2 separate regions of the Homo sapiens genome follow, and region 2 is linked to region 1. The links come from fine-mapping of genetic effects on gene expression. A gene starts in region 1. The other region holds a variant in brackets. All regions are shown on one strand. Distances are between the middles of the regions. Region 1 holds the start of DMAC2 (distal membrane arm assembly component 2). Region 2 overlaps PCAT19 (prostate cancer associated transcript 19).

Region 1 (5,504 bases):
TGGGGAGCTGTGTGCGTGGTGGAGAGTAAAGGGCAGAGGGAGTGGGATGGGGGTTCCTGGGAAAGGTATCCCAAAGTCCACTCTTCAGAGAGAATCAGCTGGCCTTGTGCTTTTCTTTTTCCTTCTGAAGTCTAACCTCAACTCTGCTCACAGGGTTCAAACATAGCCTCTTGCAGAGGTCTAACTCCACCCTTCCCTGCCTGTCTCAGGCCTGACCCCTCAGGGGCGCTCAGTGTCTGTAGATGCCTGGCACCCTCTGTCCTTCCACCTGCCCCCCACCACCACTTCTCCAGCCTCTCCTCAGCCTCCATTTGACCTCTGGCTTGCCCATAGCTTGGTCCTTGCTTGTCCTCTTGGCACGGGTCATCCTAGGGCTTTCCCACCAGTGTGCCTTTGGGGGCAGGAATGGCTCCCAGGGGCACCAAGACAGCAATCCCTTAGCTGGAGTGCCTGTGTCCAGGCTGCTGGCCTAGGGCCAAGCAGCCAATTCTGCTGACCCTGGACTTGCCTATGGGTATATTATCCCTGTTGAGGGTGAGGGCTTCTGCTGTGGAAAAGTCTGGGAAGCACTGCAGGCCTCTCTCGGCCTTGGACCCTTCCTTCAGACCCAAGGTGCATATATATACATATATATAATGGTAGATCACGAGGTCAGGAGATCAAGACCATCCTGGCCACATGGTGAAACCCCGTCTCTAGTAAAACACAAAAAATTAGCCGGGCATGCTGCCGCGTGCCTGTAGTCCCAGCTACTCGGGAGGCTGAGGCAGGAGAATGGTGTGAACCCAGGAGGTGGAGGTTGCAGTAAGCCAAGATCACGCCACTGCATTCCAGCCTGGCGACAGAGCAAGACTCCATCTTAAAATAAACAAATGAACAATATATATATATATGTATTTTGTTTTTTGAGACAGAGTCTCGCTCTGTCATCCAGGCTGGACTGCAGTGGTGCAATCTTGGCTCACTGCAACCTCCGCCTCCCGGGTTCAAGCGATTCCCCTGCCTCAGCCTCCTGAACAGCTGGGGTTACAGGTGCACGCCACCACACCTGGCGAATTTTTGTATGTTTAGTGGAGACGGGGTTTCACCATGTTAGCCAGGCTGGTCTCAAACCCCTGACCTCAGGTGATCTGCCCACCTCGGCCTCCCAAAGTGCTGGGATTACAGGCGTGAGCCAACGCGCCCAGCCCCAAGTCCCTTTTACCATAGAAAGTAACATAGTCACAGTGCCCAGGGATTCACAGGTATGGGGAGAGGGTTCGTTATTCAGCTGCCACACCCACCTTCCTAAACCTGCTGCCCTTCCAGTTTCCTCACGTGCACAGCCACGCCCGTCTGCTTTTAGTTTCTCAATCTGTTGGCTTAACCTTCAAAACAGGCCCAGGATTTGAGCACTTCTCACCATTCCCTCTGCCCCATCCCCATTCATCTCTTGCCTAGACTGCTACAGCAGCCTCTTTTACTGGTCCCCTGCATCCACCCTTGCCCTCTAAGGCAAGGGTCCCCAGTCCCTGGGCCAAGGACCAGTACCAGCCCCTCGCCTGCTAGGAACTGGGCCGCACAGCAAGAGATGAGCAGCGGGTAAGTGAGCATTACCGCCTGAGCTCCGCCTCCTGTCACATCAGCAGTGGCATTAGATTCTCATAGGAGGCAAACCCTATTGTGAACTGTGCGTGCGGGGGATCTAGGTTGCCTGCTCCTTATGAGAATCTAATGCCTGATGATCTCAGGTGGAACAGTTTCATCCCAAAACCATCCCCACCCCACCCCCGACCCCCAGTCTATGGAAAAATTGTCCTCCACGAAACCAGTCCCTGGTAACAAAACGGTTAGGGACCGCTGCTCTAAGGTACATTCTCCACCTGGCAGAAATAATCTTTACAAAATGTAAATCCGATTTTGACACTCCCTTCTTCCCACTGTGAATAGAATAAAACCCTACCAGGCCTGCACCGTCAGCCCCTGCCCACCTCTCAACCCAGTCTCCTATCTCTGTCTGCAAGCTGGTTCCCACCTCAAGGCCTCTCTGCTCTAGAGGCTACCTCTCCCTGCAGCGCTTTTCCCCTAGATCTTTGAATGGCTCTTTCCTTATCATTCACTTCTACTTCAATGTCACCTCTTCAGAGAGGCCTTTGCTGATGGCCCTACACCCAGTCACTTTTTTTTATCTGCTTCTCATCAAAATTGCCTTGCTGATTCCTTTGTTTCTTATTCATCCTCTCCCACATCCATCCTCTCCCAGCCCAGAATGTTGACTTCCTGAGAGAGGGACTGGGTCTGTCCTGCTCACCATGGTAACCTCGGCATCTAGAACAGTGCCTGCCATCACGTGGTAGGTGCTCAGTAAATATTCTTGGAACTAATGAATGAATAATTCTATCCACAAGACTTCACAATGGCTCTTCATGCTGCGATCTAGCTTTCAACTCCAAACTGGTCTTGAGATCTCACCTCAGTCTCTAACCTTGACATCTAACCTCTTCACCCACTCTCTTACCTGACCCTAATTTTTAAAAATGACGTGGTCAGCTTTTCAGCCCCCTCATTCCCTGTTTTTAGGAGGTAGTGAGTGGAAGCTGGAAGAATAAGAAAGCTTGGGGAGACTGCAATTGCAGTCAGGAAAGAAAGGTACTCTGCCGGGAAGAACACCCCATCTTCTCCTAGGGAAAGATTGTGGAGTCCTGGGGTTTGTTTTGTTTTTCAATTTTTTGTTTTAAGAGACAGCGTCTCGCTCTGTCACCCAGGCTGGAGTGCAGTGGCGCAATCACAGCTCACTGCAACTTCGACCTCCCCGGCTCAAGTGATCCCCCCGCCTCAGCCTCGTGAGTAGCTGGGACCACAGGCGTGCACCACCACGCCCGGCTAACATTTTATTTTTTGTGGATATAAGGTTGCCCTATTTCTTTGTGGAGATAAAGGCTCCCCTATGTTGCCCAGGCTGGTCTCGAACTCCTGGCTTCAAGCGATGCTTTCGCCTCGGCCTCCACAAAGTGCTGGGTTCACAGGTGCGTGAGCCCGACCTGTGTCTCGTTTTGAAGCTCAGGGAGAGGGCGCTGTGAGCAATCCCTAAACCCTTTAAGAGTAAAAAGTGCGTGCACCTTTAAGAGGACGGTTAGAAAACGCGGGGCGTGGCCACAGGAGAATAAGTTCGCGCTGAACCAGGAGCGTGGGATAAGACCGGCCCCTTCCGGTTACGAAACCTTAGCAAGATGGCGGCTCCCTGGGCGGTAAGTGACCGGAGTTCCTAGAGCCCCAAATTTGAAGTCCGCTCTACAGCCTCCGCATTCAGGGCCTCTGTTGGCGGCCACGAGAGCAGAAAGCCGTGAGGCAGCAGGCTAAGCCTGGCAAGCCCCGTACTGGGAGTGCAAACCTGTGGCTAGTGGGGGCCAGGAAGGATCTGTGAGGGTCGCAGGCGGAGGAGACGCTTTAGCGAGCGAGAGGAGGCAGGGACTTGGCTGAGAGTATCCAATGGGGATGAGGGAGTGGCTGCCGAAGAGCGACGCGACTAACCAATCAGAGGGAGGGATGACACAAGGAGCTAATGGACAGGCAAGGGTGGGGCCTGTAGGATAAGAGAGCTTGGAAGGGATTGTTCGAGGATGTGGGATTTGGTCTTAGAAGACCGAAGGATGAATGTAAGGAAAGTTAGTGGGAGATTGACGAATTTTTACAGAAAACTCAAAAGCATGATGGGTGGGGGAACCAAGAGGTCAATTTGGAGGTTCTAAGGGCATGATCTGGGTGAAATTAAGAGGAGAATTTGAGATATTCTTTCAGAGGATTTAAAATCAAGGAATGAATTTAGGGAAAATTAAAGAGGTTGGCAGCTTTAAACTTTTGAGGAAAATAAGGGTTTGGGTAAAATTATCGAGATAATTTGAAAAAAAAAAAGAATTTGGTTAAAGCAAAGAGAAATTGGGGTAGATTAAGAGGAGACCTTGAAAGCAAAATTGAAGAGTTTGGGGGCTTCTTCCCATTGGCCACACCCCTCGACTTTCTTACTCTCCTCTTCAAAGCTCATGCTTTTTATACCCTTCTCGGTTCAGGGGTGTCCAATCTTTTGGCTTCCCTGGGCCACGCTGTTCGAAGAAGAAGAATTGTCTTGGGCCACACATAAAATACACTAACCATAACTGATGAGCCAAAAAAAAAAAAAAAAAAATCACAAAAATATCCTCCTAATGTTTTAAGAAAGTTTGCATGTTTGTGTTGGGCTGCATGCAGGCGGCGGGTTGGACAAGCTTGGTTGGTTTTAGGGATTGCTCAGAGCACCCTCTCCTTGAGGTTTGGAGATAAGTTTTTAAGATTATATTCTGGGGAAAGAAAGAAGTCATTTGGGAAGACCCCAGCAGAAGAATTGGGTAATTAAGGGGCAAATCTGTGGAAAATTAAGAGGTCAAATAATGCAGGTTTTGAGTGATAAGGGTTTGGGGGAAAGTTAGAGGAAGAATTTAGGAAAATCAACAATATATGGCTAGTCGAGAAAATTTAGGGTTCACTAAGGGGAGGAGGAACTTGGAAAAAACATGGGGAAATTTTTGGAATCTCAAAGACAGTTTTGAAGTTTTGAAGGAAGAACTTAGGGTGAGTTGGGAAGCAGAGGGATTGAGGTTCATGGAGCAAGAACTGGGGGATCCAGCTCTGTGTCTCCCAGGAGGCTCCAGGCTCAGCTCCTTTCCTCTCCCCCTCCCCAGTCCCTGCGCCTGGTCGCCCCCATGTGGAATGGGCGTATCAGGGGCATCCATCGCCTGGGTGCGGCAGTGGCCCCAGAGGGCAATCAGAAGAAGAAAAGGACAATACTCCAGTTCCTGACCAACTATTTCTACGATGTGGAGGCTCTGAGGGATTACTTGCTCCAAAGGGAGATGTACAAGGTGCATGAGAAAAATCGGTGAGAATCCCTGGTCTGCAAGACCCTGTGGAGACCCTGGCCCACCAGAGCCCAGGTCCTGTCCTTGCCATTCCCAGGCAGCACTGTGGCTTCCAGTGCCAGCCTTGATGTCTCTTGCAGCTCCATCTCCAGGCTGTACCCTTCTCAAGGACTCCAGCTCACATAGGCAGTTTGCCACCCACCAGCTCCACTCAGAGTCTAACTGGCATCTCAAACCTAACATGGCTAAAGCCAAACCCTGATTTCTCCCCTAAAAACATCTGCTCACTCCCAAGCCTTCCCATCCCAGTAAACACTGGTGCTGCCCACCCAGTTGTTCAGGCCAAATTCTAAGGAGTCATCCCTAATTCCTCTCTTTGCTTCCCTGCCCTCCACATCCAGACCATCAATAAAATACTAGAATATCTCAGATTTGACCAGTTCTCACTGCCTTCACCATTCGTAGCCTGATCCCTTATAGTTGAATCACTCAATAAGCTAACTGGGTTTTTGTTCCCATACTCTTTTTTTTTTTTTTCTGAGATGGAGTCTTGCTCTGTCTCCCAGCCTGGAGTGTAGTGGCGCAATCTAAGCTCACTGCAACCTCCACCTCCCAGGTTCAAGCAATTCTCCT
Region 2 (5,234 bases), 22 kb before region 1:
ATACACCCCACCTATGATATTATTTCTAATATCCATGGGAAAAGAGTATGATATTACACCCAATGTCGCAGAGGGTGTGTATTTTTCCTGTGATATTGTTTCTAATATTCAGGCGGGGAGAAGATGATATTACTCTCAATATAGCAGAAATTGTACATCCCCGCTGTGATATTCTTCATAATAATCAGGGAAAAAGAGGATGATATTACTACCAATATTGCAGGGGGGTTACACTTCCCCTATGGTAGTGTTCCTAATATCCAGGAAGAAAGAGGATGATATTAATCCCATTATCCAGGAAGTGTACACCCACCCTGTCATGTTGTTCCTAATATCCAGCAGGGAAGAGGATGATATTACACCCCCCCCCCCGTGATATTCTCCTTAATATCCAGGAGGGGAGAGGCTGATATTACTGGATATATAGCAGGGGTGTTCATACCTTCTGTGATATTGTTCCTAATATCCAGAAAAGGAGAGGATGATATTACTTCCAATATCGCAGAAGGTGTACACCTCCCTGTGATATTGATCCTGACATTCAGAAGGGGAGAGGATGATATTACTCAAAATACCGCAGGGCATGTGCATTCCCTTGTGATATTGTTCCTAATACCCAGAAGGGAACAGGATAATATTACTTTCAATATCGCAGGGAGTGCACACCCCCCTTTGGTATGGTTCTTAATATCCAGAAGGAAAGAGGGTGCTATTACTTTCCATATTGCAAGGGGTGTACACCCCACTGTGGTATGGTTCATAATATCCAGGCAGGGAGAGGGTGCTATTACTCCCCACAGTGCGGGGCATGTACACCCTGCTGCGGTACGGTTCCTAATATCCAGGGGGAGAGAGGATGCTATGACTCCCTATATCGCGGGGTGTGTACACCCCTGTGTGGTATGTTTTGTATTCTCCAGGAACGGAGAGGGTGTTGTTACCCCTCATATCGCTGGAAATGTACACTCCCCTGTGGTATGGTTCGTAATATCCAGGGGATTGAGGGTACTGTTACCCCCATACTCCCCATATCGTGGGGGGAGTGCACCTCCCTGTGGTATGGTTCGAAATATCCAGGGTAAGAGAGGGTGCTATTATTCCCCATTTTGCAGGAGGCGTACACCCCCCTATGGTATGGTTCGTAATATCCGGGGTGAGGGGATGCTATCAAAAGAAGAGAGAAAGAGACCCCCCATATTGTTCTATATTATTTTATACTCAGTACCTGTTTTAAGAAGAAACAAGGAAGTGAAACCAAAAGCAGGCAGCCCGGCGCCAGGCACCAGACCCAAAACCAGACCCGAAACCAGGCCTGGGCCTGCCTGACCTTAGCCTGATAGTTAAAATTCAACCCATGACCTAGCAACCAATGTTATCCATAGATTCCAGACATTGTATGGAAGGACATTGTGAAATTTCTTGTTCTGTGCTGTTTCACTCTGATTACCGGTGCCTGCAGCCCCTGTCACATACCCACTAGATTGCTCAATCAATCATGGCCCTTTCATGTAAGATCTTTAGTGTTGTGAGCCCTTAAAAAGGACAGAAATTGTGCACTCAACAAGCTCGGATTTTGAGACGCTAGTCTTTCGATGCTTCCAGCTGATTAAAAGCCACTTCCTTCACTACCTCGGTGTCTGTGGGGTTTTGTCCGCGACTCCTCCTGCTACACTATGACTCCCCATATCAAGGGGGGTGTACACCCCCCTGTGGTTCGTAATATCCAGCAGGGGAAAAGGTGCTATTACTCCCCATATTGCAGGGAGTGTACACCCCCTTGTAGTATGGATCGTAAAATCAAGGGGGGAGGGAAGGTGTAATTATCCCCATATCTCAGGGGGTGTACACCCCTTTGTGGTAAAGTTTGTAATATCCAGGGATATTACAGGGATATTATCCCCAAATTAATACTTTTATAATTTCTTATGCCTGCCTTTACTGCAATCTCTGAACATAAATTGTGAAGATTTCATGGACATTTATCACTTCCCCAATCAATACTTTTATAATTTCCTATGCCTGTCTTTACTTTAATCTCTTAATCTCATCATCTTTGTGAGCTGAGGATGTATGTCGCCTCAGGACCCTGTGATGATTGCATTAACTCCACAAATTGTTTATAAAACATGTGTATTTGAACAATATGAAATCTGGGCACCCTGAAAAAGAACAGGATAAGAGCGATGTTCAGC[G/A]AACAAGGGAGATAAGCATAAGGTCTGACTGCCTGTGGGGCTGGGCAGAACAGAGTCACATTTTTCTTATTGCAGAAAATGAGTAGGAGAAATATCACTGGGAAGGGAACGCATTCCTAGGGGAGGCCTATGGACGGCCGCTCTGGGGGTGTATCCCTTATGTGGTTGAAGATAAGGGATGAAATACACCCTGGTCCCCTGCAGTGCCCTCAGGCTTGCTAGGATTAGAAATTCCAGCCTGGCGAATTCTAGTCAGACCAGTTCTCTGCTCTTGAACCCCGTTTCCTGTTAAGATGTTTATCAATGACAATGCGTGCACAGCAGGACATGGAACCTCAATAGTAATTCCATTTTCTCCCTGGCCTTGTGACCTTGCTAGGCCCTTCTGCCCTTGTGATCTTTTATTGCCATTTGAAGCATGTGATCTCTGTGACCCACTCCCTATTCGTATCCCCCTCCCCTTTTGAAGTCCCTAATAAAAACTTGCTGGTTTTGCAGATCAGGTGGTCATCACAGAACCTGCCGATATGTGATGTCACCCCGGAGGCTCAGCTGTAAAATTTCTCTTTCGTACTCTTTCACTTTATTTCTCAGACCAGGTGACACTTAAGGAAAATAGAAAAGAACCTACTTTGAAATATTGGGGGCTAGTTCCCCCAATAGACATTGTTCCTAATATCCAGAAAAAAAGAAGATGATATTACTCCCAATATCACAGGGGTTGTGAACCCCACCTGTGATATGGTTCCTAATATCCAGGAAGGGAGAGAATGATATTACTCTCCATATTGCAGGGGGTGTGCACATCCCTGTGATATTGTTCCTAATATCCAGGGGAGGAGAGGGTGATATTACTCCCAATATTGCAAGGGTTGTAAACTCCACCCTGTAATATTGCTCCTAATATTTAGGATTTAGGGGGGGAGAGGATAATATTACTCCCAATATCGCAGGGGATGTATATGCCCTCTTTGATATTGTTCCTAATATCCAGGGGGGGAGAGGATAATATTACTTTCCATATCACAAAGAGTGTTCACCCCCCTGTGATATTGTTCCTAATATCCAAAAAGGAAGAGGATGATATCAATCCCAATATCACAGGAAGTGTACACCCCCCCCTTTTATATTGTTTCTAATATCCAGGGGAAATGAGGGTGATATTTCTCTCAATATAGCAGAATGGGTACACTCCCCCTGGGATATTATTCCTAATATCCAGGGGAAAAAAAGAGGTTGATATTCTTCCCAGTATAGCAGGGAATGAATACACCCTTTGTGATATTGCTTCTAATATCAAGGGGAAAAGAGGATGATATGACTCCCAATATCACAGGGGATGTAAACCTGTGGCGTTGTTGCTAATATCAAGGAGGGAAGAGTATGATATTACTCCTAATGTCGCCGAAGGTGCACACTTTCCCTGTGATATTGTTCCTAATATCCAAAAGGGAAGAGAATGATATTACCCCCAGTATTGCAGGGTGTACACCACCCCTGTGATATTGCTCCTAATACCCAGGAAAAAAGAGAATGCTATTACCCCCAATATCTAAGGGGACGTATACCTTCCCTGTGATATTGTTTCTAATATCCAAGTGGGGAGAGGATGGTTTTACTCTCAATATTGCAGGGAGTGTACACTCCCCCTGTGATACTGTTTCTAATACTCGGGCTGGGAGAAATAGTATTACTCCCAATATCGCAGTGATATTGTTTCCCTGTGATATTGTTTCTAATATCTAGTGGGGGAGATAATTATATTACTACCCCATACACAGGGGAGGGTGTACATTCCCCTGTGATATTGTTTGTAATATCCAGGGAAGGAGAGGATGTTACTCCCAATATCACAGGGGTTGTACACCCCTTTTTTGATATTGTTCCTAATATCTGGGGGGCAGAGAATTATATTACTGTCAATATCACAGAGTGTGTACACCCCCTCTGTTATATTACTCTTTATATTCAGGGCGGTAGAGGATGATATTACTCCCTATATCACAGGGGGTGTTCACCCCTCCTGTGATATTGTTTATAATATCTAAGGGGAAAGAGGATGATATCACTCTCAATATCAAAGGAAATGTACACCTTTCCTGTGATATTGTTTTTATTATATAGGGGGGCAGAGGATGATATTAAGAACAATACCACAGGGGATGTACACCCACGTATTGATATTGTCCCTAATATGTATGGGGAAAGAGGACAGTGTAACTCCCGATATCGCAGAGTGTGTACACCCCCTTGTGATATTGTTTCTGATATACACGGGGAGAAAAGATAATATTTCTTCCAAAATTGCAGGGGGTGTACAACCCCCTGTGATATTGTTTTTAATATCCAGTGGGGGAGAGAATATTACTCCCAATATTGCAGGGCGTGTACACAACCCCTGTGATATTGTTCCTAATATCCAGAGTAGGGGAGGATGACATTACTTTCAATATCGCAAGGGGTGTACATTCCCCTGTGATATTGCTCCTAATATCCATGAGGGGAGAGGATGATATTATTCCTAATATGGCAGGGGCTGTACACCTTCCCTGTGATATTGTTTCTAACATCCAGTGGGGGAGAAAATGATATTACTCCCTATATCACAGAAGGTGTACACTTTCCCTGTGATATTGTTCCTAATATCCAGAAGGGGAGAGGATAATATTACTCCCAATATCGCAGGAAGCTTACAACTCCCCTGTGATATTGTTTCTAATATCCAGGGAGGTAGGGATGATATTACTCCCAATATCGCAGGGGATGTACACTCCCCCGTGACATTGTTTCTAATAACCAGGGGGTGAGAGGATGATATTACGCTTAATACCGAAGGGGGTGTACACACCCTTGTGATATTGTGCCTAATAGCCAGGGGGAAGAAAATTATATTAATTTTAATATTTATGGGGAAAAAGGATGATATTACTCCCAATATCACAGGGGCTGTACACCGACCTTTTGATATTGTTTTTAATATCCAGAAGAGAAGAGGATAATATTGCTCCCAATATCAGAAAAGGTGTAAACCCCTTCTGTGAT

Evidence for each region. PIP is the estimated chance that this variant, and not a neighbour inherited with it, causes the effect.
Region 2: its variant is fine-mapped to the expression of DMAC2 in whole blood (TOPMed, PIP 0.98).

The regions. Positions count from the first base shown.
Region 1 is chr19:41,437,605-41,443,108 of GRCh38, reverse strand. DMAC2 (distal membrane arm assembly component 2) reads left to right here and starts at 3,197. Exons shown (of 6, transcript NM_018035.3): 1 at 3,197-3,227; 2 at 4,695-4,891. The coding sequence starts at 3,210. RefSeq lists an enhancer at 3,293-3,462.
Region 2 is chr19:41,459,868-41,465,101 of GRCh38, reverse strand. All of the region lies in intron 2 of PCAT19 (prostate cancer associated transcript 19), which reads left to right. Among named protein-coding and RNA genes, the nearest start is that of ERICH4, 19 kb to the right of the region's middle. The variant G/A (reference allele first, on the strand shown) is at 2,193.